Homo sapiens: one gene and its partners. The protein of the gene in region 2 purifies or fractionates together with the protein of the main gene of each other region. This does not show direct contact. Each region holds a gene or a part of one and is shown on either strand. Other genes may lie near its edges. The genes, in order: MID1, MID1IP1, ACACB and KLHL25.

The links.
Region 1: the proteins of MID1IP1 (region 2) and MID1 purify together in Homo sapiens (affinity purification with western blotting; 2 studies listed by BioGRID and IntAct, with this or other methods). This does not show direct contact.
Region 3: the proteins of MID1IP1 (region 2) and ACACB purify together in Homo sapiens (co-immunoprecipitation; 2 studies listed by BioGRID and IntAct, with this or other methods). This does not show direct contact.
Region 4: the proteins of MID1IP1 (region 2) and KLHL25 purify together in Homo sapiens (co-immunoprecipitation; 2 studies listed by BioGRID and IntAct, with this or other methods). This does not show direct contact.

The regions. Positions count from the first base shown.
Region 1 is NC_000023.11:10,445,024-10,449,585, reverse strand, and holds the end of MID1 (E3 ubiquitin-protein ligase Midline-1), read left to right. Parts: coding exon 1-218; 3' UTR 219-4,030; downstream 4,031-4,562. UniProt on the Homo sapiens protein: Has E3 ubiquitin ligase activity towards IGBP1, promoting its monoubiquitination, which results in deprotection of the catalytic subunit of protein phosphatase PP2A, and its subsequent degradation by polyubiquitination.
Region 2 is NC_000023.11:38,797,298-38,804,468, forward strand, and holds the start of MID1IP1 (mid1-interacting protein 1), read left to right. Parts: upstream 1-4,161; 5' UTR 4,162-4,190; exon of another isoform or gene 4,191-4,495; intron 4,496-5,237; 5' UTR 5,238-7,116; intron 7,117-7,171. UniProt on the Homo sapiens protein: Plays a role in the regulation of lipogenesis in liver. Up-regulates ACACA enzyme activity. Required for efficient lipid biosynthesis, including triacylglycerol, diacylglycerol and phospholipid. Involved in stabilization of microtubules.
Region 3 is NC_000012.12:109,245,567-109,252,598, reverse strand, and holds part of ACACB (acetyl-CoA carboxylase 2), read right to left. Parts: intron 6,974-7,032; coding exon 6,851-6,973; intron 6,421-6,850; coding exon 6,151-6,420; intron 4,994-6,150; coding exon 4,896-4,993; intron 2,616-4,895; coding exon 2,495-2,615; intron 554-2,494; coding exon 443-553; coding exon of another isoform or gene 278-442; exon of another isoform or gene 21-277; intron 1-20. UniProt on the Homo sapiens protein: Mitochondrial enzyme that catalyzes the carboxylation of acetyl-CoA to malonyl-CoA and plays a central role in fatty acid metabolism.
Region 4 is NC_000015.10:85,791,905-85,799,164, reverse strand, and holds the start of KLHL25 (kelch-like protein 25), read left to right. Parts: upstream 1-4,239; 5' UTR 4,240-4,399; intron 4,400-4,481; exon of another isoform or gene 4,482-7,260. UniProt on the Homo sapiens protein: Substrate-specific adapter of a BCR (BTB-CUL3-RBX1) E3 ubiquitin ligase complex involved in various processes, such as translation homeostasis and lipid synthesis.

The DNA of each region.
Region 1 (4,562 bases), about 28 Mb from region 2:
AGCCTGCCCCCCACCTCCGGCGCGTGGGCATCCTGCTGGACTATGATAACGGCTCTATCGCCTTTTATGATGCTTTGAACTCCATCCACCTCTACACCTTCGACGTCGCATTTGCGCAGCCTGTTTGCCCCACCTTCACCGTGTGGAACAAGTGTCTGACGATTATCACTGGGCTCCCTATCCCAGACCATTTGGACTGCACAGAGCAGCTGCCGTGAGCGTCTGGCCACATGGAGCTGCTTTCTGGGGAACAGTAAGGTTCAGGCCACTATTTAGGGGACTGAGAAAGCACAGGCTTCATGAGTGTAATGAAATCTCACCAGAAGTGTCCCGAAATCGGCTCAGATAGGGCTCAAAACAAGAGATTCCTCTCCTTTTACTGTGTCTTGTATTAAGTACGGGCTTTAATAATTTCTTTAATTTTTTTGTATTTAGAGGAAAATCTATAGATTATTTATAAGAGAAACATAATCAGGATTACAACTTTTAGGAATTACTTGGTTTTGCACATTAAGAGGCCCATAAGTTTATCAGCTATTTACAACCTTCATTTCATCACAATCTGTGGGCTTACAAAAAAACAAAAACTTTTGTAGTTTTGTATGTTACTCATCTTCTTACCTGATATCCCATGATGATCCCATGGTAGGTCTTCTCACCTCGATGGTGCATAACAGGATGTGTTTGAACCTAGTAGGGGAGGAAACAGGCTTTCTTACTCTGGTTTAATTTGAAGTGTTTTAATTGTGATGTCAAAAAGTTGTATCAGATCAACTAAAATGGAGAGCAAGACAGAGAATGAAAAGAGTTGATTTTGGACCTCGGACCTTGCCGTGGCTAAATCTTTACCTTCTCATAGCTGATGGGATAATGTTGGAAAGAAAGGTTCTGAATCCTTTGGCCACATTTTGCCCTGCTTCTCTCAGGGTTAAGGGTTCTGGAAGAACATTAAGAATGAGATTGCAATTGAAAATAGTCATTTTGAATCCTATTGATTATTCAAAAATTCAGGCTGATTTGTCTTTTATCAGAGGTAGGATTCTGTTTTATAGTATAGAATCTACTTTATCCTTCCTTTTAATAGTTCCTTTAGACCTGTGAAATTTCTTCACTACATTTAATAGTTCTCCTATTTCCCGCTCCCCCATATCAATTTTCCTTTTGTCTCCGGGGCTGAGTAAATAAACATGTTCTGTCACAAATAGCAGCACCACTTTGGATTGATTTTGCTCTCCAGGACATCAGCACATGGCCCTGATCAGCACTACCACATCCAAACATAAGTCACTGAAAAACACTTAATATTTATGAGTTGGTAATGACAAGGGACATTGTATAAAGTACTATTTGCTAGATTCATGCCTCAAAAGTTATTATAAACAGACCTTTATTAAACACATCTTGAAAGATGTAGAAGTCCCTCTATAGTCTAGTATAGTTTACAATAGAGTTGTAAGACCAAAAAAAAAAAAAAAAAATTCAAACTCGTTATTCAGGAACCTGCTTATAAAATGTCAGCTGGGATTCTTTGCATGCCAATCTGATGCGTTGGAATGGTCCATGAATTAAGGCTTTCTTGAGCAGTTCTTGGCCCAGAACTCTGGCATTGGTTCTAGTTTGATGAAGGGCATGACCTCTATAAATGGTTTCAATTGCTAAAATATTTACCTGGGATACTGGGTCAGCCATTTTGACTGAGCAGACTAGTGGATTTAGACATTGTTTTTAGTTATTTTGTTTTTAACCAAATCAACCAACTGCCTCCCTGAAATAAGTCAATGAACTCATTGTTTCAGCATCACGTGGCCAAAGGTCATGTGATTGCAAATCTGGATTTCAAGGGAGGCCAAGCCAGCTTCCTGGGTCCTTCCATCCTCTTCCCTAGCAGACACTCTCCTTTTTCTTAACAGATAGATTCTATATATTTACTATATTATTTATACCCAGATGAATATTTTGATAGATACCTAAGACAATTTCACATCTAAAAGATGGACGCCTCAATGGAAAAAAAACAATCTTTCTCTGGAAACCTTATAGGTTTTTCTTTTTATTACAATATAAAAGCAATGTGTGTTTGCCTTCTCTGAGTAAACTGAAAGGGTTGTCTCAGTAATTTTTACATACATTTTGGGTAACTGGATAATGGATATTTTAATGCACTTTGTACACTAACAGGTTCTAAATAAAAGGGTCTAAAACTCAGCTTCTGAGTTTTTAAAATCACGGTCTCCAGGTACCAATAAATGCTACAGTTTGCCTTATGATGTTAACATAAAACACTTAGTAGAAGGACAATATTTCCATGAAAATAATGTTTTTCAATATTAAGAAGTTACTACTCAAATTTTCACAGTAAGCCATTTAGGGTATGTTTGGCTATTTTTATAAGGACATGAGAGATTATGTCATAATTTTGTTGTGGAAGTCTCACTCTTGGCTAACTTAAAAGCATTGTGGATAGTAGCAGTTACTAGTTCCAGGTTGTCATATTTACAGGAAAATATGTATATGGTGAAAGGCCACCGTGTTTAATTACTATAATGATGTAGAAAAGATTCCCGTGTGAATTTTTTTTTTGAAAGTCTAAAAAATGTATGCTGTAAAAATTTGCTGCAGTGTAATTTTGCATTCTCTTTAAACTGATTGAGGTCACAGTATTTTATTATTTGGGGTCCTCACCACAGGAAACACTGCGATACAGGGGCAAAAGAGATGGCAGTGCCAATTAAATTAATACAACAAAATCAATGCAGCACCAACCAAGACTGCCAGGTCTGGTGTCATGGGTATGCCCAGAGCCCAGGAGTTCAGAAGGGCCCTAAGCCTGATTTAATGCTCTGCTGTTGATGTCTTGAAATTCTTAACAATTTTTGAACAAGGGGCCTGCGTTTTCACTTCGCACTGGGCCTTGCAAATTACATAGCGAGTGCTCATAAAAGAACTCAGAAACGTGGTACCTCTCTTCCTGGTGGATACAAATAAAGAAATCTGGATCCAAAGTTGAAAGTTGCTGGCGATATCATTCAAGTAGGACTCTAAATAGTGGATTAAGATGAGGGTGGGCCTGGGTGAAGATTCTTTCCAGCTTTAAAAGAAAGTGACTTCAAAAACTGACTGCAAATATTGACGATGGTTTCTGCTGGAGGAAAAGAAACAGCTTGAATACAGACAGGCTTTTTTATTACGGTACTGATATATTGACCTTAAACTTGCTGAGGAACTGAACTAACGTCCTCCAGTGACCGTGGAATTCCATCTCAGCTCCAGGAACATGCAGATACCTGCAAAGAGACACGCATATATGCTGGCATACATGTGCATTTGGTGTTGGGAAGTTGACCATCTGGTCTATCTTAATAAAATGGTAAAAAGCACACCAAGACAATGATGGGGGCAGGAGGATGTTTTTGAAAACAGCGCTTCTCAACCAGTGCTCGATTTTGCCCCCCAGGAGACATTTGGCAATGCAATGGCAACTTTTGGTTGTCGCAGCCGGGGAAGGGAAGCTACCAGCATCTAGTGCGTAGAGGTCATGGACGCCGTTAAACATCCTACAGTGCAAGCGCAGCCCCCGACCACGAAGAGTTGTCTTGCTCAAATATCAACAGTGCTGCAGTGTAGAAACTTGATCGTTGGTTTTCTTTTAATGCAAAACTCTCATAAAAACCTTTCACTTTTCCTGTCATTGATTATATGCTTGATACACCCAAAAAGAAAAGGGGAGGGGCACCAATTCACCTACACTCCAGTGGCTCCATCACCTTTAAAAATATTTATAAAATAGTTCCAAAAATCTGATATCTGAAAAGCAATCCAAGCCTGTGTAAATGGGAATCACTGATAAGTATCATCATCTGTATCAGCTTGGCTTGGACATGAAAAATTGATTCTCTTTATGTCACTCCTTGCACCTGGACAAATTCAATCCCCGGTACTTAAGTCACACTGCCAAGCCCTCGGCCCTGACTATTGTCTTGATTGCTGTTCCTTTCTGGTTCAAAATAAAATCATTTTTGTGGCACCAAGACCCTCTGTCTCTGCCTGTCTCTGTTGCCTTTTCATCATTTTGTGTTTTTGCAGTTATGATGTTGACAAATATTTATTCAACATCTACCATTTATTCATACTACTTTATGACATATAATTCATTTTCTTTTACTGTCTCTCATCCACTATTTGCCTTTCCCTATTCAAAATACAATTCTTTTGCAACACTCAAAATATTCTCCAGGGAATTTTTAAAACACAATAAAAGAAAGCCTATATAGAAGTGGAAACCCAGAACAAGGTTTGCTTGATTTCAAGTCTTATAGATGGGGTGAGGAAGAGAAGAGCAATGATTATTTGAACAGAGCACTGGGAGTCTTTACAGTGTGATCTAGGAGAATCCTAGCAGTTGGTCCATACATATATCCTCAACCCCATCCCATGGACCTGACTTTCTCTCACTAGAGATGCAAGCCTTTGGTCTTGGTCAGTGCTATGCAAAGTGTGGTCCAGGAATCTGCAGCATCTGCATCACCTGCGAGCTTGTTAGAACTGTCAGTTCTCCTGCCTCC
Region 2 (7,171 bases):
TTGAAAAATACAACTAGCTTGTTTTTCAACTGTTCTGCATAATTTTATCTGGTATATAGTATGCTTATTAAATCTGCAGATGAATGCATCTTGTCAAGGAAAATTTTCTATGTTACAACTGAATTTCTTCTATTTCACATGTTGAGGTCTCTTTGGAAACATCAGTTAAGCTTATATTGTGTGTGTGTGTGTGTGTGTGTGTGTGTGTGTGTGTGTGTGTATGTGTGTGTGTGTTTTGAGACGGGGTCTCACTCTGTTGCCCAGGCTGGAGTGCAGTGGCATGATCTCGGCTCACTGCAACTTCCGCCCCCTGGGTTCAAGTGATTCTCCTGCCTCAGCCTCCCAAGTAGCTGGGATTACAGGCATGCACAACCATGCCCAGCTAAATTTTTTTGTATTTTTAGTAGAGATGGGGTTTCACTATGTTGGCCAGGCTGGTCTCAAACTCCTGACCTCAAGTGATCTACCCACCTCAGCCTCCCAAAGTGCTGGGATTACAGGTGTGAGCCACTGCGCCTGGCCTATATTATGTTGTCTTTGTCTTCTCTATCCAACATTTCCTCTCCATTTTCTTTCACTCTTTTGTGTCTTTTCATTGGGATTACCTGAACCTTTTGCCCTATGCCAGTAACTGAATTTTCTGGCATGCCTGTTTTGTTCCTTGTTTGGAATTACATTTATTGACTCTCTAGTGATGTGTTTGGTTCAAATTTTGTTTCTTTTGCTCTGCAATATCCTTTTTCAAATCTTCCTAATTGTTTATTATTTTTCTATTCTTATCAAGGTCTTCTATAGCTGGAAGGACTTGTAGGTTGTATTTGCTTCTAGATTTACATCTTTTGTGTACTAACTCTGTCCAGACTGTCTAATATGATGTAGGTGAATTCGCCTTGACTTCATTGTACCTTGTCTAGGTCTAGTTTTTTTATTATTAAGGTTGGAAGAGTAAATTATGGAAGACTTGGGCGTGTAACTGTTGAACCCGTCCATTGGATAATGTATTTATGACACTGTAGCTTCAACAAAATGAAGCTACAACCCATATGTATATGTATATATGTGGATTTGTAATTAGGACTTGAACATATGAAATATTGATAATTATGTGTTTTCTCCCTAATTTGGTGTTATAATTTGTAAACTTTGAATCTAATTTCAGAATTTAAACTAACCAAGCTGACACATTTTAACAGGATAGAGTGAAGAAAGAACATTCTCATTCTTCCTTCTATGCTGATGGTACAAGAAAGTCCTGGAATCCTAAGGATCTAGGAAAAATCAACTTGAGAAGTTTCTATGTGGTAAGAAAAGCTATGATGTGTCTTGCCCTTTTCTCATCTACCATATTGAAATTGAATGTACAGTTCTGTATACGGTTCAGAGTTCTTAAAGATGTAGAAATGATGAGAACATAACAAAAGGTATTCTTTAGTATTCTCAACTTTCCCTGTGCTCTACTTCTTCCAAACGCAAGGCTAAAGACGCTTTAAAAAATGAGATTGTGACAAAATGCTAACTACGACATATTCAGACATTCCAAAACCTGAAAGTGGATCTGAAGCCAGCAGATTCACTACTCACTGTTCTTAGGTTTTGGCATTTTTCTGTCTACCTTCTCTCAACTAAACCTTCATGACGGTTTTTCCTGTAAGGACAATTACAATAAGATACACTCCCTTCCCCATCTTAACTCAGATTATTATGATGCTATTTCTGCATTTTTGTATCATGTGATGGTGGTTTCTTTGTGGTATATGACAAAAATGCCCTTCTTCTTGACTCCACAGGAAGAAAACTGGCTATTAGCTTGGGACTTCAGCAAGGCACTTAGCAAGGTCTCTCATAATATCCTGTGGTCAAGAAGAAAAATATAGGCTGGATGACTGTACAATTAACATGATTCATAGCTGGCTGGAACAACTTATGCCAAAAAGTGCCAATTAATGGACGGATATCAAACTGAAGGAGCTCTCCAGATGTTCTACAGCAATTTGCCTCTTGCCCAGTGGTGCCTGGTACCTATTATCAATAACTTGGATAAATATATAGAATAGTTATCAAATATATGGGTAAGATCCAAGTGCATTACAGCACAGAATCAGGACCCAAAATAATAAAACAGGCTGAACTAATGGGCCAAATCCAATGAGATAAAGTTTAAGTAGGATAATATAAAGTTCTGTACTTTGGTCCAAAAAATCCCCACTACTCAAGTATAGGGTACACAAAATTTTGTTATATAGATGGCAGCATATAGATGTAGCTGTTAAAATAAGTCCATTAAATGTTAGGCAGCATTATAAGCAGTAGCTATCTATTGAGTAGTAGAAAGAACATTGGATTTGGCATTAGAAAACTGGGTCAAATCCCAGTTCTGACAGTTTGGCCCTTAAACTCTTTGATCCTTGCTTTCTTCTCAGGGTGGTTGTGAAGTTAAAATGAGTTAACATGTCTTTTGAGTTAACAAGTCTAATTTCCAAGCACTTGTGCTCAATAAATATGACCTAGAAAAATTACCATTCACAATAATATAAGTGGCTGTGCCACTCCATTTTGTCCTAGAAAAGATGGTACTTGGAATGAGAGGGGCCACACTCAAAAGCAAACCAGAGCTACTTCTAAAGTTAGTGACTAGGATGGATGAGCGACTCAAAAGAGAACATGAAGAATGGCTACAGGAACTGGGGATAACTGACTTGAAGAACAGTAGACTTAAGGAGACCATATCTACCTTCAAACATCTGATGGTGTGCTTCATGGCCTTCTGTAGAGCTCCAAAAGATAGAAGAACACTGGAGAACGGAAAATAGAAGAATGTAGGCAAGGGCGACCACTTGGTGGGGATGTTGTGAGCGATTTCAGCACAAGTGGATGGTTGGACTACATGGCCTTTAACACGAGAGTCTGACTGTCATATTTCTAGGACATTTTTCATGAAATGGATCCTTCTAAGTCTGTCTCAAAATAATCCAGGATCTCTGCTATCTTGGGTTGGGCTGGCTTCTTGCCTTAAAATATCATCTTTCTTCCAGTTCTAGGCCAGATCTCTTCTTTATCCAGTCTGACTTTCTTGCACCAGTTTACTCTTGCTGACTACTTTGTTCAGGAATTTCTGGTCACTTTTAAAATGTCATTCCCCCCCCCCAAAAAAAAACTATCCAAGGGACACAGTACAAGGATAATTTGTGGACATTTTTGGGGAGATGAGCCAGCAAAGCATGCTTTCCAGGTTGCTTAATTAAAAGAGTGGGAATTAAGAACCAGAATTTAAGAGTTCCGGCAGGGCGCTGGTGGCTTACGCCTGTAATCCCAGCACTTTGGGAGGCCGAGGCGGGCGGATCAAGAGGTCAAGAGATCGAGACCATCCTGGCCAACATGGTGAAACCCCGTCTCTACTAAAAATATAAAAATTAGCTGGGCGTGGTGGTGCGCGCCTGTAGTCCAAGCTACTGGAGAGGCTGAGGCAGGAGAATCACTTGAACCCGGGAGGCAGAGGTTGAAGTGAGCCGAGATTGCTCCACTGCACTCCAGCCTGGCGACAGTGCGAGACTCCGTCTCAAAAAAAAACAAAACAAAAAAAAAGAGATCCAGAATTCCAGAATTGCAACTGTGAACCAAGAAGTGGGGATGGGTACCTCAGACAAGGCTTTTACCGGAAATTTAGCATATAGGATAGAAAGCAGAGACCAAAGACCTCTTGCTTTGAGGCTGTTGGCGTGCTACAAGGACTCGAAAGTTATTTGTTCAACGGATGACTTCTGTTTTCTGGAGGCAAACTGAATTCCGGGCAGGTGGCTCAGCACCTCCAGCCTGTTCCAGATCGGGACAGGGAAGGTGCCTGGGGCAATCAGTGAGGTTTCCAACCTTCCTTAGGCCTGGGCCAGCCCGCTCCCCTCCCATGTGACCCCAGGCAACCATTTTAATTTTTTTACAGCCAAGCGTAGTGGAGAACTGGCTGCGCGCCGGTTGCCAGGGACGCGGCAGCCAGCTTGGCGGGGCTGGGGTGAAAGAGGACGCTGCGTGGGGGAGGGCTCCGCGGCTTCTGACTGGCTGGAGCATCAGGATTCATTTGCATAATATTTTCTGACGGCTTCTGATTGGCTGAAGCCAGAGGGGCGGTGGTGGGGTGATTCCAAGGGCCCAGAGCTCTGGCCGGCGGACCTTTTCCTTCTGGAGTTTCCCCGGCGGGTGTGAGTTGTTGCGGGGTCTGGGGGAGCTGGGAGGCCCGGTTTGGGAAGTTTTGCAGGCAGGTGCATGAGCCATCTTTCTCTGAAAGTGTTTAAGAAATGTTCAAGAACAGCGGCCAGAGTCAAGAAACTGGGGGATGAAGGGTTATCTCGAGACTAGACGGAAGGAAACGTATCAGGGGAGGGGTGGAGGCCAGAAGGAAGGAGTTAGGTAGGGGCCCTCTCCCAAGCTGGCGTTTTTGCTGGGTGGAATCCTTTTGCTAGATCCCTTGGATTTCCGTTTTCCGTGTGTTATCACACTGTTGGAACTGGGAAGAAGAGAAAAAGAGGCAAGATTTTGGCATTTAGTAAGTTAAGTCTGAATACCGAGTTTTCATCCGGGTGCATACGTACTTAAAATACCAAATGGGTCCAGGAAGGGGGACAAAGTACGCTTTAATTTATGAGAAGATCAGCTACTAGAAACTGTATATCTGTTTTTCTCGAGTTTTCTTCTTGCAGTGCTCTTTCAATCTCATTGGACATATTTTATATTATTTTCCTGCTTAAGCACTGGGGGTTGGGTGGAAGGATCTGTGGCTCATCATAGGCAATTTCCACACTTTTAAGGTTTCTGACTCTTCACATAAACACCTCTCACTATGATGAGGTCCTGTATCAAGTACAATTAATCTTTGTACTTTACAATTTACATAGTGATTTTTATTTACATTATCATATTTAAACTTAATCAAAGTCCTTGGCACGGCCCATGGAACAAGCTCCATTTTTTTGATAAAGAAACTGAGGCTAGAAAAGTTTCTATGTGTGCAGAGAAGGAAGGTGAAATTATTTTAATGCTTCAAAGTTATATAATGCTTCCTGCCTCCCTGTATTTTTCTTTCCATTGATCTTCCTTCAAAACCCTGATAGGTCTATCCCAGTTTTGCAAGTAAGAAAACATGGGCTGTGATGTAGAGCTAATACGTTTTGGGGTAGTGGGTCCTCAGACTTAGGTCTGTCTCCAAGGGTCACTGACTTTGTTTTGTTTTGTTTGTTTTTTGTCAACAGATTAGTCCTTGTGGCACCAAGTCAGAATTTCATTCAAAAGACAATTAGGAAGATGGTTTTCTATGGAAAATATTTAAGTGTAGGTCTTAATGTGAAAGAAAGAGGGAGAGAAAGAAACCCCTTTATTATGTTCTCCCTTCCTTAGGCATTTTTTGTCCCGTGGGAAAAAACTGTACTAGGGACAGAGACCTCTGTTAAGTTTTAGAGAAAAGGGATCTTTTTTTTTTTTATTTGAGACAGAGTCTTGCTCTGTCGCCCAGGCTGGAGTGCAGTGGCACGATCTCGGCTCACTGCAACTCCGCCTCCTGGGTTCAAGCAATTCTCCTGCTTCATCCTCCCGAGTAGCTGGGATTACAGGCGCTGGCCACCACGCCCGGCTAATTTTTGTATTTTTAGTAGAGACCGGGTTTCACCATGTTGGCCAGGCTAGTCTGGAACCCCTGACTTTGTGATCCGCCCGCCTCGGCCTCCCAAAGTGCTGGGATTACAGGCGTGAGCCACCGTTTCAGGCCGAGAAAAGGGATTTAAAATGAGAAGCTTGAATCTTATTGAACATAATTGTAGGACTGCCAGAGAGGACTGGTGGATGAGGAATATGGCAAGGGACATGAGATGGGAAAAATTAAATAGGCTGTGGTTTGGAAGTCTCAAAGTGAAATTCAAGGTGCAAGGCTCTTAAAAGTTAAATCCAGCGATTCGGTACATAGCTTAGGCCCTATTAAATGACCCAGTGCTTTAAGAACTATCTTTTGAAAGGAACACTTCACACAAGCACCCTCAAAAATAATTAGACACCTCCCCATTTCTCTGTTAAATGGTGAAAGACACCCAAGACTAGACCTAACTACTGTCACCCTCTCCTGGCCTCTTGGCAGCCAAAAGGCCACATGGCCCAGGCTCTCCAGCATCACTGTGTAGCCGACTTGGACAAAAATGGACTTCTCCCCATTGCCACTTGCAGATCTCTTCAAAGAATCAGCAGATCTGATAGTGTGCCCCTCTTCATCCCCGGCAACCACTGTTAAAGGAAAGATTGGGAAAGATCCCACCCCGCCAGGAGGGAGGCAAAAGCCTCTGACGCTCCCCTCCCCCCATAGCTGACCAAGGCCAGGGCCACTGCGGGAGCACCGCGCGTCCACGTGCACCCAGCATGCCCGGTCACCCTTTATTACGTAAGAGTCCCAGGATGGAGTTGTACCTGCTGCCGGCCCCTCTTCCCCGACGGCTAATAATAAACCCGGGTTCCTGTTTCCCGGCCGCGGCCACTCCAGATTCGGGGCTGAGGGGCTCACTCTGCAACCAAGGCACGTGCATTCTGGTCATCCCACGCGGGGAGCGCGCGCAAGGCCCGCCCAGCCCCCACATGCCAGCCCCACCCTCCAGTCGGTCCGGACGCCGACGCCTTTTTGACCCTCGCTGTGCCCGGCCCTCCTCATCTGGCCTGCCCAGGGCTTGGTGCTGGCGGGGTCCAGCTGCTCCAATCCCTCCTCCTCTGCTCTGCCCTGCCCTGCCCTGGCCTGCCCCGGCGCCCTCCCTCAGCCCGGGTATCAGGCGAGAGGCGGAGCTGGCCCGGCGCGCCCCGCCCCCGCTGTAGAAAGGGCCGGGCGAGTGTTACTCGCGGTCATCCCGGCCTGGGCCTTTTATCTCGGTGCTGCCGGGGGAGGCGGGAGGAGGAGACACCAGGGGTGGCCCTGAGCGCCGGCGACACCTTTCCTGGACTATAAATTGAGCACCTGGGATGGGTAGGGGGCCAACGCAGTCACCGCCGTCCGCAGTCACAGTCCAGCCACTGACCGCAGCAGCGCCCTTGCGTAGCAGCCGCTTGCAGCGAGAACACTGAATTGCCAACGAGCAGGAGAGTCTCAAGGCGCAAGAGGAGGTGGGTGCCCACGCCCCATCGCTGCCCCGGCCAGCTTGGTTGCTTGAGCTCAGGC
Region 3 (7,032 bases), on a different chromosome or scaffold from region 2:
CAGACATTAAGTATAGAGACTTTTCAACAAGGAAAATGTTTTAATACAGTGAAAAAAGTAGAATACAAAACTGCATATTCACTATAAATTAACCACATAAAGACAGAAGATGAGAGGGAACTATACCAGAATGATAGAAGCTGCAAAATTACTTTTTTGGGGGGTTCCTTTTCTAATTTTCTGCAATGTGTAATGGCACTTCAATAATTTGTTTTAAAATGTCAGTAATACAGGGAGTTAGATCGACCAGAATTGCCTAAAACTAATTTTTTTTTTCTCATAAGGACCCAGATAGCTGCAAATTGGAAAAAAAGAGCTCTTGTATCAGTAGGAATGAAACTGGCTTCATATTGAGAAAAATCCCCCACCAGAGACCAATGGGAATGTTAAAATGACTCCTGGCCCCCAAGGATCCACTCTGCACAGGCCCCTTTTTGGTCACCTTGTTGAGAGCACTTGCTCCTGTGAGGATGATGTGGGAATTCTCCACCTGGATCACTCGCTGGCCCAGCCTCACCAAGTAGGCCCCAATCCCAATGGCTCGGCAGGTCACCTGTGGAGAGAGGACCCCCTCTGAATTCTGGAGAGTGGCGAGGGACCCACCCCCCACAGCAGGGAAGAGTCCAGGAACCTGCTGGGACCAAATGGAAGTTATGTTTTGACCAATGGCAACCCGATTTGGAGCCAAACCACAGTAGAGGCAAAAGCCTATTCTTCAGGCCACTTTATTGAGCTTGGATTCCTATCTGGAAATAACATGGTTAACAAAGATTGCTGTAAAGACAAGCAGCAGACAGTGAATGTTTCAGATTTTAAGAGGCTTGTGTGCAGCTCTTCTGAGCCTGGGCATTCATGGGCCATTGCAGCCTCTTAACAACCAAAAGGACACCTAGGAGTGCATGTAAAAACTGGTGAAATTCAAAATAAGGTCTGTACTGAGTTAACAATATTGTGCCAATGTCAGTTTCCTGGTTTCGATAATGTACTACGGTTATGTAAGTACCATAGGGGAAGCTGGGTGAAGGGTACTTGGAAATTCTCTGTAGTATCTTATAACTTACGGTGGGTCCTAGATGACTTCAAAATAAAAAGACTATACATATAATCTAGAAAACAAGCCCAAGGAAGATGCTTATGACCAACATTTTCCACTTGGAAACTGAAGATTCAACATTGCATGTACAAATAAGGCCTTCCAAGGCAGTTTATCATTAAAGAGTACTATTATTCCTGCTGCTGCTGCTGTTAGAGTAGGTAGTTAAGCAGACATGAGCAGGGCAGGAGAGGAAGGCAACCATCAGGTGATAGTTAGGCAGTTGCTAAAGTGTCTCTCTAAAATTAATATTGGTCACAGCTGGCTCCAGGGAAAGGCAATCTCCTGATAGATAGAAAACACCTGAAGCTAGTGATAAGCAGCTTCCCCATAAGATCTCAGGAGCTGGGTGGGTGGGCTCAAGCATGCATGCTAAGAGGTAAGATGGCAGAGTTTATCTGGTACCGTGCCCTTCTTCTAGGAACACTCGACTGGTAAAGGAGGAAAGCCTCAAGTGAGCATGCACACAACTTCAGTAAACACACTGTTCATGCGGCCCCTCCTAAGTGCTGGCAGACCACGTGCATGCAGACAGCCCACCCCAAGGGAAGAATCAGGGGAGAAGAAACACAAACCCTGGAATCATGCCAATGCATAAAACCTCAAAAGGGTTGGATGAGGCACTTGGATCTCTCAGGTTGCCTTGTTTGGCCCTCTTCCAAGTGTACTTCATTTCATTCTTGCTTTAAAACTTTTTAATAAACTTTCACTCCTGCTGAGAGACTTGCCTCGGTCTCTCACTCTGCCTTAGACCCATACAGATTCACCACCACAAACACTACTACCACTACTACTACTACCACCACCACTACTACCACCACTGCTAGTACTAGAATTACTACTAGTACTACTACTACTACTACAGTAGTACTACTACTAGAAACAGAAAACATTTTTGGAAAGGCCATGGGGATGGGATGGGGACTACTCCTTATATGCCAGTTAAAGTCAGAGAAAAGTTCTTCTAAACATTCAGTACCTTGAAAATAAGATGAGATTGGACCCTGATTCAAACAAACCACTAGAAAAGGGTATTTTGAGATAACTGTTAAACCACACTGGGTTTCAATGATATTGCTGATTCTGTTGGGTGTAATATTAGTATTTCAGTTATGTTTTTAAAAACCGGGGGAAGAGGGTGAGAGTCATTATCTGTTAAAGATCTACCCTTACGTATTTATGGATGAAAAGACATGATGGGGGCTGGCTTTAAAATACTCTAAAACAGGTGCAGGGGATGGGGGTGAGATTGAGGAAATATCAGTGGGCTGGCATGTGGTAACTGTAGGAGGTATGTGACGGGCACATGGGGCTTATTATTGATTCTCTCTAATTTTGTGACAATTTTAAAGTTTCTATAATGGAAAGTTGAAAAGTAAGAGAAAATAGAAGAAGACTCACCAAGCTAATGGTGACGATCTCTTCGTAAGCCAGAGAGGACTCCCCAGCAATCATGCCTGAGCCCCTCAGATTCTCCACGCCCAAGCCATCATCCTTCCCGATGATATCCGTGATCATGTATCTTCAAAAGCAAGCACAGGTTAAAGGCTGGGCTCTAGCCCCAAAAAATCCAAGGTGGATGCATTTCCCAAGAAGGGACTGACTGGGCAGCAAGGTGAGAGATTGGAAGCAGACAAAGCATCCAGAGGCAAAATGAAATTGGCATCTAGAACCCTCAAAATGAGTGCTAAGATTTCTAAAAGGGCAAGTGCAGCATCAACAATCATCACCCTGCTCTGTAATCCCAGCAGTTTGGGAGGACGAGGCGGGCAGATTACTTGAGGTCAGGAGTTTGAGACCAGCCTGGCCAATATGGCGAAACCCCATCTCTACTAAAAATACAAAAGTTAGCTGGGCGTGGTGGTGCACGCCTGTAATCCCAGCTACTTGGGAAGCTGAGGCAGAAGAATCGCTTGAACCTGGGAAGTGGAGGTTGCAGTGAGCCAAGATTACACCACTGCACTCCAGCCTGGGTGACAGAGCGGGATTCTGTCTCAAATAAATAAATAAATCATCACACTGCTCCCATCTGTGAAAGGAAAATAAAAACTAGGACCACGATTCACAATGCCAAAAGGAACAATTTAAGCTGAAGCTGAGTTGTGCAAGCTGCCTTTCCTTTTGTTTCTTTAGTAAGCAGATAGATACAGATAAAAGCTGAAATATCTCCACAGGTAGTTCCTCTATGTCCACCTTATCTTATAGAAAGTGCTGACTTACTGAGCGCAGGAAGAATACATAACTGACTTCCCCTGCCTGCGCCTTTTCTCCTGCAACATGTGATTACCAGAACTTCCCTCTTTCCCCTCCAGCCTGCTTTTCTCCTTTAAATACTGAAGCCCTCCAAATCATCTTTGAAGAAAGGTACACGCCACAGACGGTTTCTATGATTCCGTGTTCTTTGCTTCTGGATGTGTCCCTAACCTTGGCAAAATAAACTTCTCAATTGATTGAGACCTGTCTCAGATACTTTTTGGTTTATACAACCAAAGATATCTGCCTGTTCAGGGGCTGTCTCAGTGAAATATCACCCTCGGCCCATATTCCTCCAACGGTCTACAGAGAGATGGGGGTACACAGAGGAAACCCATTCACAATCAATCAATCAAAAATTCCAGGGCCACATAATGAGAAACACTGTCCCGCCAGCCTCTGTTAGAGATTCACAATGCACTTTAGCATGTGTGATGGTTAATATTAAGTGTCAACTTTAGGATGCAAAGTACTGTTTCTGGGTGTGTCTTTGAGGGTGTTGCTAGAGGAGATTAACATTTGAGTCAGTGGACTGGGAGAGGAAGACCCATCCTCAATGTGGGTGCGCACCATCCAGTCATCCAGCTGCCAGCGCGGCTAGAAAAAGCAGGTGAAAGAAGGTGGAGTAAGCTGCCTTGCTGAGTCTTCTGGCTTTCATCTTTCTCACATGCTGGAAGCTTCCTGCCCTCAAACATCAGACTCCAGGTTCTTCGGCCTTTGGACTCTTGGACTCACGCCAGTGGTTTGCCAGGGGCCCTCAGGCCTTTGGCCACTGAAGGCTGCACTATTGGCTTCCCTACTTTTGAGGCTTTTAGACTCAGACCGAGCCACTACTGGCTTCCTTGCTCCTCAGCTTGCAGACAGCCTATCATGGGACTTCACCTTATGATCATGTGAGTCAATTCTCCTTAATAAAGTCCCTTTCATATATACATATATCCTACTAGTCCTGTCCCTCTGGAGAACGCTGACTAATACAGCATGCTACAGGTACTAAGAAGGTCTGCAATAAAGATGTTTATGAGATCTCATTTAACCCAGTGTTTCCCAAACTCATCTGACTATGGAATTTCCCCCCAGCTTGTCACTAACATTGCAAAAAACCCAGTCTAGGAAATCCTGAGTCAGTTAATCCCACTGAGAAAAACATAACTTGTCCTGGAAAAGATAGTAGCCTTTGAATGCTCTCGAAGAACAGACCTCTCTCTGCCCCACCCATACCTTCCCAGTTTGCCAAGTCACCGCTGCATCAGTTTGGTCACAAAATGTGAGCCTGCGGCTCCTAGGAGATTCACGAGAATCCAATCTCATTCTCCCTACATGACGTGCTATTTTTTGTGAAAGGAGTCACTCATTTTAGAATGACAAGGATGGACTCACCTTGGAGAGTTTAACAAATGTTTAAGGCATCAGTGCCCCCAACAGGCATTGGTTCCCATCATACAAACACCACCACCCCACTGGAAAATATCGCCACAAGCCCCGAGGAAAGAAGACAGCTGAAATTAACCATGAGCAAAATTAAGGAGCTACCTGATAAGTTATTTACCTGGACTCTCCTCCTTCCTCGATGTGTTTACAGTGGACGGAGTTCAGGGAGCTGATTCTGGTGTAGTCTTGGGGAGTCAGGTACAGGTATTTAAATCCCTTAAAAAATACTTTAGTGAGGCTACGAATCCAGTTCCCTGCACTGAAAGCCACTGTTTTTTTTTTCTTAATGTGAACATCGTAGGGATGGATGTTAATAACATGTTAGTAACATGTCAATGACACATTAACACATCTCATGTAAATACCGTATTAATAACAGCCATAAACTGAAGTTCTGCTTTGAGCTAAGCTCTCCTCTAAGGACTATCTCATTTTTATTTCTTATTGCCAGCACCCCAACATGAAATTTTAATTTTCAAGATACACTGTTTAACCACTATTTACATACTCTGTATATGTATATATGTTAAAAACTATTTTATTGCCACCCCAAAAATTATTTTTCTGTCTTCTTGGGGGTAGTGGGCAATATCGCCCCCGAGAATGCATGCTCTGAATGGAAAGGATGACTGTCCCCTGTCATTTCACATCACAGAATGCGTGCGCTTCCCTCATTCATCTTGCCTTTTATGGCAAGCTGGTATCTATACAACTCCCCAAAGATTTTTCTTTTTTTTTGAGATGGGGGGTCTCACTCAGTTGCCCAGTCTGGAGTGCAGTGGTATGATGATCATGGCTCACTGCAGCCTTGAACTCCTGGGCTCCAAGTGATCCTCCCACTTCAACTTCCCAAGTAGCTGAGGCTGACTACAGGCAGGCACCATCATGCTCACCTAGTTTTTTCATTAGTAGAGACGAAGTCTGGCTATGCTGCCTAGGTTACCTAGCTTGGTCATGAATTCCTGGCTTCAAGCTATCCTCCCACCCAAGCCTCCTGAGTTGCTGGGATGACAGGTGTGAGCCATAATTCTAAGAACGCTATGAGGCCAGGGAGTTGACACAATCACCTCTGCATTCTCAGTGCACACTGCATTCAGGAGCGCTCAGTGTATATCAGCTCAGGGTTTATAGACTTTTTTCATTATCCCCGTTAAGGAGCCTTTTTAGATCTTTTTTTTCTCATCACCATCCCCCCCGCCACAGTGAAATGTTAGTATCACTGATACACTGTATGCCTGTTTATACACTACATGTACATCTGTGCTTTATACATAAGTGAGATTTTTTTCACCTCTTGCAGGTGCTAGCACTCCCACTGAAAATACAGTAGTAGCTGAGCAGAATCACCCTGCCCCGCCAGTTTCACGACGTACTTTGTGGGGGTCTTCTGGGTCCACCCAAGCCACGTGGAACATGTGTTTGATCTCCTCTGCCATGCCAATACGGGCGCCACTGTTGGCTGCCACGTAAATTTTGGGAATGCCCTCTGCCCGGGCCATCTCGGATGCCCGCAGGTACAGAAGGTCCTCTCCAGGGCCAAAGGATCCAATGCGAAAGGTGATGTCATTGCCGATGACGATCACATCCCGTCCTTCCGGGTACTCCTGGGTCTTAAACCTCATTTTGAAGGCCACCATGCCCACCTGGCAAGGGGATGAATGCACAAGGAAAATGAGTTTGTTTCTTTGGGGGAAAACTTTTTATTTTATTTTAGTTATTATTATTTTTTTTAGATACAGGGTCTTGCTCTGTTGCGCAGGCCAGAGTGCAGTGGTGCAATCACAGCTCATTGCAGCCTCAACTTTCTGGGCTTAAGCAATCACTCCTGCCTCAGTCTCTCGAGTAGCTGGGACTATAGGAGCACACCACCACACACAGCTAATTTTAAAATTTTATGTAGAGACAGGTTCTCACCATGTAGCCCAGGCTGGTCTTGAACTTCTGACCTCAAGTGATCCACCCACCTTGGCCTCCCAAAGCACTGGGATTACAGGTGTGAGCTACTGCACCTGGCCCAAAAATATTTTTAAGGGGGTGACTCCAGCCAGGGGTTAGGCTCCGCTGAGCTATTACCTCATTTCCACCAGGAAGTCGGTTCATCTCCACCAGCTGGCCCTGAGAGTCCAACACTAATTCAGTGTATGTCAGGATGTCTTTGGGATACTTGTCTGGGGAGCCCCACAGTTTAAAGAGAGCCTGGGGAGAGAAGAGGAAAGAGAAAAAACTTGAAGTCATCAGTAGGGAAGAACTATCTT
Region 4 (7,260 bases), on a different chromosome or scaffold from region 2:
GCAGAGCATGTCAGGGTCAGGAACAGGGAGGTGGGAGTTGAGGTGTGAGAGTGGCCCAGGCCAGACCAGGGCAGGCTTGTGGGCCGATGGTAGGACTCTGGCCTTCACTCTGAGTGAGGTGGGAGCTACTGGTGGATTTCGAGGGGTAGACAGACATAACGAAATTATCTTATAAAAAGATCCCTCTGGCTGCTGTGTTGAGAACAGATTCTATGGGAGCAGTGTGGAAGAGGGAGATGGCCTGGAGGCTGCCATAATGTCACAGAGGAGAGAAAATGACAGTGTCTCTAGACCAGCCTGGGGGTGGCAGTGGAAGTAGTAAGTACTCAGACTCAACAGGGATTTCCTGATGGATTGGACATGGGGTAGGAGAGAATGATGCCAAGTTTTATCTTACAAAAGGAAAGACTGCGTTGTCCTTTCCTGAGATGGGGAAGCCCACAGGGAGAGCAGCCATAGGAGCTCAGCGGAGACAGTTTGAGGGTAAGGTGCCCTAGACATGCACATGGAGATACCCAGTAAGCAGCTGCACCCATGGGCTTGGAGCTTATGGAGAAGGCGGGGTGGGAGCACAGAGTTGGCAGTTGCCAGTGCTTATATGAACGTAAGGCATGGGCTTGGATGAAATCACTTAGAAGGTGTAGGTAGGGAAGGGAATAGGTCTTCTTATCTCCCTATGCTCCCTACGCTCGCTTCCCGGGCGCTCCAATATTTGTAGGTCTGAGAAGTGAGGGGGAATCAGCAGAGGAGACTAAAAAGAACACCTGAGAAGGTAGAAAGGAAACCAAGAGGCCAGGCGCGGTGGCTCACGCCTGCAATCCCAGCACTTTGGGAGGCCAAGGTGGGCAGATCACCTGAAGTCGGGAGTTTGAGACCAGCCTGACCAACATGGAGAAACCCCGTCTCTACTAAAAATACAGAATTAGCCAGGCGTGATGGTGCATGCCTGGTGATCGCAGCTACTCGGGAGGCTGAGGCAGGAGAATCGCTTGAACTCGGGAGGCAGAGGTTGTGGTGAGCTGAGATTGCGCCATTGCACTCCAGCCCGGGCAACAAGAGTGAAACCCCATCTTTAAAAAAAAAAAAGAACCAAGAATTTGATCATCTATTAACGAACATATATTGAATTCTATACATCATCCCAGAATTTCTGAGACTTCAGATTCTGGGCCACCAGGAATACTAGCTAGATGGCAATGCTGGGAGGAAGGTATTGGTAAGGATTGTTGGTGGACAACAGGCATCTATTCCCTCTTCCTTGTTAACAGAACCCTGACTTTGAGGAGGTGATGTACTAACATAAAAGTCTACATTTCCCAGCTGCTCTTGCAGGTAGGAAAACTAAATTCTGTCCATAAACAAAAGTGTTGTGTGGGACTTCTGCAGTCTGCATAAATAGAGCTAACCAGGCTGGAAGACACACATCTCATGCTCTTCCGCCATTATTCCTTCCTACTGTCTGGGATATAGGTGTCAGAGTTGGAGCCCTAGCAGCCATCTTGGACTATGGGGCAACCTTGCAAATGGGAACCAAGCATTACAGATGAAGGAATAAAAATACAGTAGCCCGTGTTTCTGACAACTGTGGAGTTGCCAACAAAGGATAGCTTAACTTTAGCTTTATTTTGCATAAGCAAGAAACTTCTATCTTGTTTCAGTCACAGTTAATTTTGGGTTTTCTGTCATATGCAGTAAAAACTAATTCTAACGGATATGAGATTTATTCACAGTATTTCAAAACTGTGTAGACAACTTTGATGCAGCCCTAAGAGTTCTGAGATGAATTCATGGTCCCTGCCCTCCCAGAGCTCCCTGCACAGCAGGTGGACTAGCTAAGCAGGCCATTACAACACTGGCTGGTAAGGGCTGCGTTGACGGTAATGCTCCAGGGTCCGCAATAGATGGCAAGGCAAACTTCCGCTCTTCCTCTCATCTTCTTTCAAATCGTACCTAAATTCGATTAACTCCACACGTGTTCTTAGTCTGATTTTGTCCCATTGCTTACACTGTATTTGATTTTAATATATTCTAGTACCTAATTTAAGCCTTGGAGTTGAAGAGAGAAAAAATTATAATGTGGACCAGATTTTACTGGGCGGTTGGCACTTATAATTTTACAGCGAACCTGCATAAAATAATAAGCAACAGTTATAAACTTGCCAAGAATCAATTTTGCATGTGGAGCTTCATTCAACCAACAATTCTATAAACACTCTAGTGCTAGAAAATCGGCAGGATAAAACTACAAATGTGATCTCTGTCATTTCCTTAATGAAGTAATTACTTTGATGCTAATGTGTTGGAGCTGGTTCCTTCCGGTGGGTTGGTGGTCTCGCTGACTTCAGGAATGAAGCTGCGGACCTTCACGGTGAGTGTTACAGCTCTTAGAGGTGGCGTGAACCCAAAGAGTGAGCAGCAGAAAAATTTACCGTGGAGAGCGAAAGAACAAAGCCCCCACAGCGCCAAAGGGGACCCAAGTGGGTTGCTGCTCCTGGCTGGGGGGCGGCCAGCTTTTATTAGCTTATTTGTCCAGGCCCATGTGCTGCTGATTGGTCCATTTTACAGAGTGCTGATTGGTCCGTTTTACAAACCTCTAGCTAGCCACAGAGTGCTGATTGGTGCATTTCTACAGAGCACTAATTGGTACATTTTACAAACCTCTAGCTAGATACAGAGCGCTGATTGGTGCATTTTACAATCCTCTTGTAAGACAGAAAAGTTCTCCAAGTCCCCACTGGACCCAGAAAGTCCAGCTGGCTTCACCTCTCACTACCTTTTCTCTTCAGAAGGCACCTTAACAGTGCACTTGGCAAGCTTCTTACCTCTGGCCAATATTGTTCATAAATATCAGAACCCTGGTGCCTTAGATGTCTGCAGATCTGGGCCAAATGGAAGCACAAATCTGTACTGAGCACTTACTACATGCCAGGCCTATTCCATATGTTATCTTAATCTTTCCCATACCCCTGCAAGAAAGGTTTTAGAATCCTCTTCACCAGTAAGAACCAGACACCAGAGAGTCTGAGCCATCTGCTTCAGTCCTACCCAGCTCTTGAGGGGCAGGGCGGGGCTTCAAACCCAGAACATCAAGCTGTTTCCCAAAAATGCCTTCCCTGGTGGTATCTTCTCATCATCTCCCAGTCTTTTAACCCTGGCATATCTGTCCTGTCTAAGCAGCTTTCTACCCAGGGGCTCTATTTCCCAGGTTCCACTAGTCACAATCCTATCCCCTCTCCCAAATCTTTGTACACTTTCTTAGACCTTCCTTGCACCTCCCACCTCCACCTCCGTCAGGGTGACCTCTGCTTCCTGGGAATTTCCCCGCCCCAGGCTTGGCTCTTTCGTTCTTATCACTTTCTATGCTTTACCTTTTGTATCCTTAAGCAACCTACTTGAATTATCGATTTTCATTGGGAGGGAGAAAAGAGAGGACATTTATTGCGCACTCATTTGTCTGGGAATTTGTCTCCTTTAATCCCCCAAATAATCCGATGAGGAGTTTTTATCTGCCGCTTTACGGATGAGATTGGACACACACAGTAAGCTGAAGTAGTAGTCAGGAGGGAAAAGGACGAAGAATCACAAACCGTTCTCCCCCTCCAAGATGAGTGCATGGTGTGGGCGTCCAGGAAACGTTCCTGGAAGAAATTATTGGATGGATGGATGAATGAATGAATGAACGAACATTTAAAGGCTGGCTTACGAAAGGAGTTTAGTGAGAAATGACACAGAGAGGAGAGCTGAAATACTCCAAAAAATACAGATTTCAAGTACAGGTGGGGTTTGGAGGCTGCAGAAAGTCCCAAACATTCAAACAAGCCCAGAGTGAAAGACAGGGTTTCATTAACACTCGGGCAACTACTAGTGTGGCTCTGAAGAGTCTAAAGAGATCTACAACACTTGTGACCCGAACACAAAAGAGGCATATGCAATCTACAGTGCTCCCTCTGGAAAGCTCTAGAACACCGTCGCGTTTTGTTCCCAAACTTGGGCGGCGGGGTTGGGCAGGCGCCTGTCTCTTTAAGAATCTGGTCGAAGTCCTTTTCCTCGCCCCGCCCCGCCCCCGGTCCCCCCCCCTCCCCGCCCCCGGCCCCCCACCCCCCGGTGCCGGCGCGGCCTGGGGCCCACCCCCTTCTTTTCTGCGGCTGCACTGAAGGGTTCGGCTGCCCATCCGTCACAGAGGCGATGCCTCTGATTGGCTGCTGCTCTTCGGGCCGGGAGGCGGGGCGGGAAGGCCGGAGAAACTAGTTTGTTGGCGGCGCCTAGGCTGTATCGCAGCGAGAGCGTTTTTGCCTGTGGAGAGCCGGCCGACGGGAGCCGCGGCGGAGCCTGTTGAGCTCGCGCGGGCTGCCGGGAGTGGTCTCTGAGGCGGCGGCGGCGGCGGGGATCGTCTCCGGCAGTGAGTATCCAGGCCGGGCGGGGACGCCGTGCTCTGGCCGCAGCACCCGCGCCCCCGCTCCCTGCGCTGGGGACTCACCACCCCGGGCCGGGCCGGGACCAAGCGCTCGGAGCCCCCGCGGGACTACGTGTCCCGGGAGGGGGCCCCGCGGCTGGGGCCGGGGCCCTGGGACAATGGTGGGGAGCGGCGGCCGGCCGGCACCCCGCGGCTCCGCGAGGGAATTCGCCGAGAGCTCTGCGCGAGGGAATGAATTGTTTGGCAAATGGATGTTGCGCGCGGGAGCCGCTACTCTTTCCCCAGGGAGTGGTTGATTCATTGAGTCCGCAGACTCTTTTTTTTAAAAAATTACTATTGATCCTGGAAAGAGAGACTGCTTGTCTTTGAGGACGCGAGCGGCGATGCCCCGCGCCTTGGACGCCCAGGCCGGATGGCTGCCTGCCTGGCGCAGAGCGAGGGCCCGGGGTTCACAAGGGGAGGGTTTGCGCGGGCCTGGCCGCGGAGCCCCGAGCCGTTCACGTTCCGCCTGCCAGGGTCCCTCGTTTCGGTTTGCAGAACTGTCCAGCGGCAGAGAAAGGTCGCACTCAAAGGCACACCCACCTGTCCACCTGGGTGGCGGCCAGACTGGCAGGTCCAGAGCAAGCCCTCTAGCCTGACTCTAATTACCACACTTGCCCTGGCTCCGAGACACACCGCGCGATGTTACGCCCCCACTCCCCCTGTCTCTTTCGTAGTTGCTTTAGAAGCTTTTCTCTTGGGGGATTGTGCCCGGGAGATACCAGATACTTTTTTTGTGTTGCTGCTCTAAGCCCCCAAAGTGCATTCCCATTGTCTTTGAACAAAGAAACATCTCTCTAGAGGCCTGACCCAACGAACTGTGGGTGAGGGGGCGGACCCAGGCCCCTGCAGATTTAATCTGGACGCTCTTGGGTCCTGCTGGATCCCGGTGAATTTGACCTTGGGGAAGGCGGGCTGGACTTTGACTCTCCTCGGTAGTCAGGGCAGAGAATGCCAGGTGTCTGGACCATTTGGTTCCACTCTATCGGCCCAATAGAGAGAGGAAGGGAAGGAAGTTAGCAGTAGCACCAGGAGAGGAGGCAGGATTCCACGGTCTGTATCCTGGACCAGATTCCAGTGACCGTTATGGGGCCAAGCCCTCTGGGACCCTGGGTCCCAGTCTCCCCATTCATAGGAGGAACTGATGCTCAGTGTGCTGATCTGAGCTGTGAGGATTCCTGGCATGTTGGTGAAGGCTTGCGTGGGGGTCTGGGGAAGAGTAGGACACAAAGTCTACCCCACCTCAGGGTCCATTTGGTGTCCCAAGACCGGAGGCTCTTGGGTCCACAAGCTGTGCCTGTGAAGGTTGACGTAGTCAGTCTTTTTCCGGCCTGGCAGCTATTTCAGTTTTGAGTCATTTGTCAGGCAGTGACTCCAGGGTGGTTGATAAAAGGGAGGTAGAAATGGAAGACACCTTCATCCTGGGGTCTTGGGCTGCAGTTGGATTTATGTATGTGGTGCGGAGAGAAGAGCTATAGGCAAATTGCATGCTCCACATCGGAAGCAGGTTCTGCAGCCCGATGCCCCTTAATAGCGTTTTAAATCTGCGGGCACCCCGTGTGGGCAGAAGAGAGCAGGAAGAAAAGAGAACAATTACCCAGTGAAAGCAAGCTTGGTTCGTCCCGTCTATCACTTGGGCGGGGGCGGGGGGAAGGGTAGGATGAGTGAGAGTGTTATTTAGTGGGTGGTTTGTGACTGATTGATTGATTGATTCATTGTTTGAACAGACTTGATTGGGCACCTGCTGTGTGCCAGGCCCTGAGTTAGGTGCTGGAGACTCTTCCTTTAGTGAGCACCTAGATGAGGGAGTGCTGGCACATGGATTAGGGGCCCTGACACATCGTAGTGATAGAGGCAGCAAGAGGAGAGAAGGAGACACAGGTGGGCAAGGCTTCCTGGGGAGAGGATGCCTTGACTAAGATGAGAAAGGCATGTCATCGCCCAGATTCGAGGTGTAGGGCAGCCACCTTTGTCCTGTCGCTCACCCACACTTCTCCCAGAGGCCCAATTCATTGCCAGCCTCAAGATAGGCACAGGTTGAGGCCATGGAGAATGCAAGTGGGAGGTGGTAGAAGGTTTGCTCTCGTCCGTAGTGTCTGGCCGCACAGTCAGCAGTCCAGCGCATTTGTAGGAAGCTGGATGGCTTCTGGATGCAGCCTCTCTTCTCTGGGGGTCCTGGGAGAACCTACCCCCTGGTCCCAAAGACCAGCCCATTGTCTGAGCCCCTAGTCCCTCTGTACCACCAGGCAGTGTAGGCATAGCCTGGCCAGTGTGGGCAGAGCTGGCACAAGAAAACAGAGTGGCCAGACACAAATGAATTGGTTGATTGAGATGCTGGTTTTCATCTAATGTGGTAAATTTCATAATTTAATTGCCTCAGCCAGCCAAGGCTGTTGAAGCATTTTCCTCACCAGGAAACACTTAGTTGGAACAAGCTGGGGGTAGAGGAGGGAGGTGCAGGGGAGGAGGGAGGAGGGAGAACTTAAGCATCCACAGCTTTCAGTCACAGCATCCCAACAGGACTTATCAATCAGCAGCTATCCCCAGCTGATGGAAGTCAGCCCAGCCCCTACAGTAGGTTCCAACCCCTTTCCTTGACCACCTCATTGCCATACCAACCTAAAGCTGTCAAAAGCTGACACCTGTCATCTTCAAGGCATAATCATCCCATACTGCCTCCAGGTCCTTCTGGGGCTGTTAGAAACTGGGGAAGGGGTGCTGTGGGATTAGGTGGGGAAGCGAAGGGGTTTGGGGATAGGAAGGGCTCCCTGTTAAGTCCTTTTAACCCAGGAGCAGTGGAAAGAGCA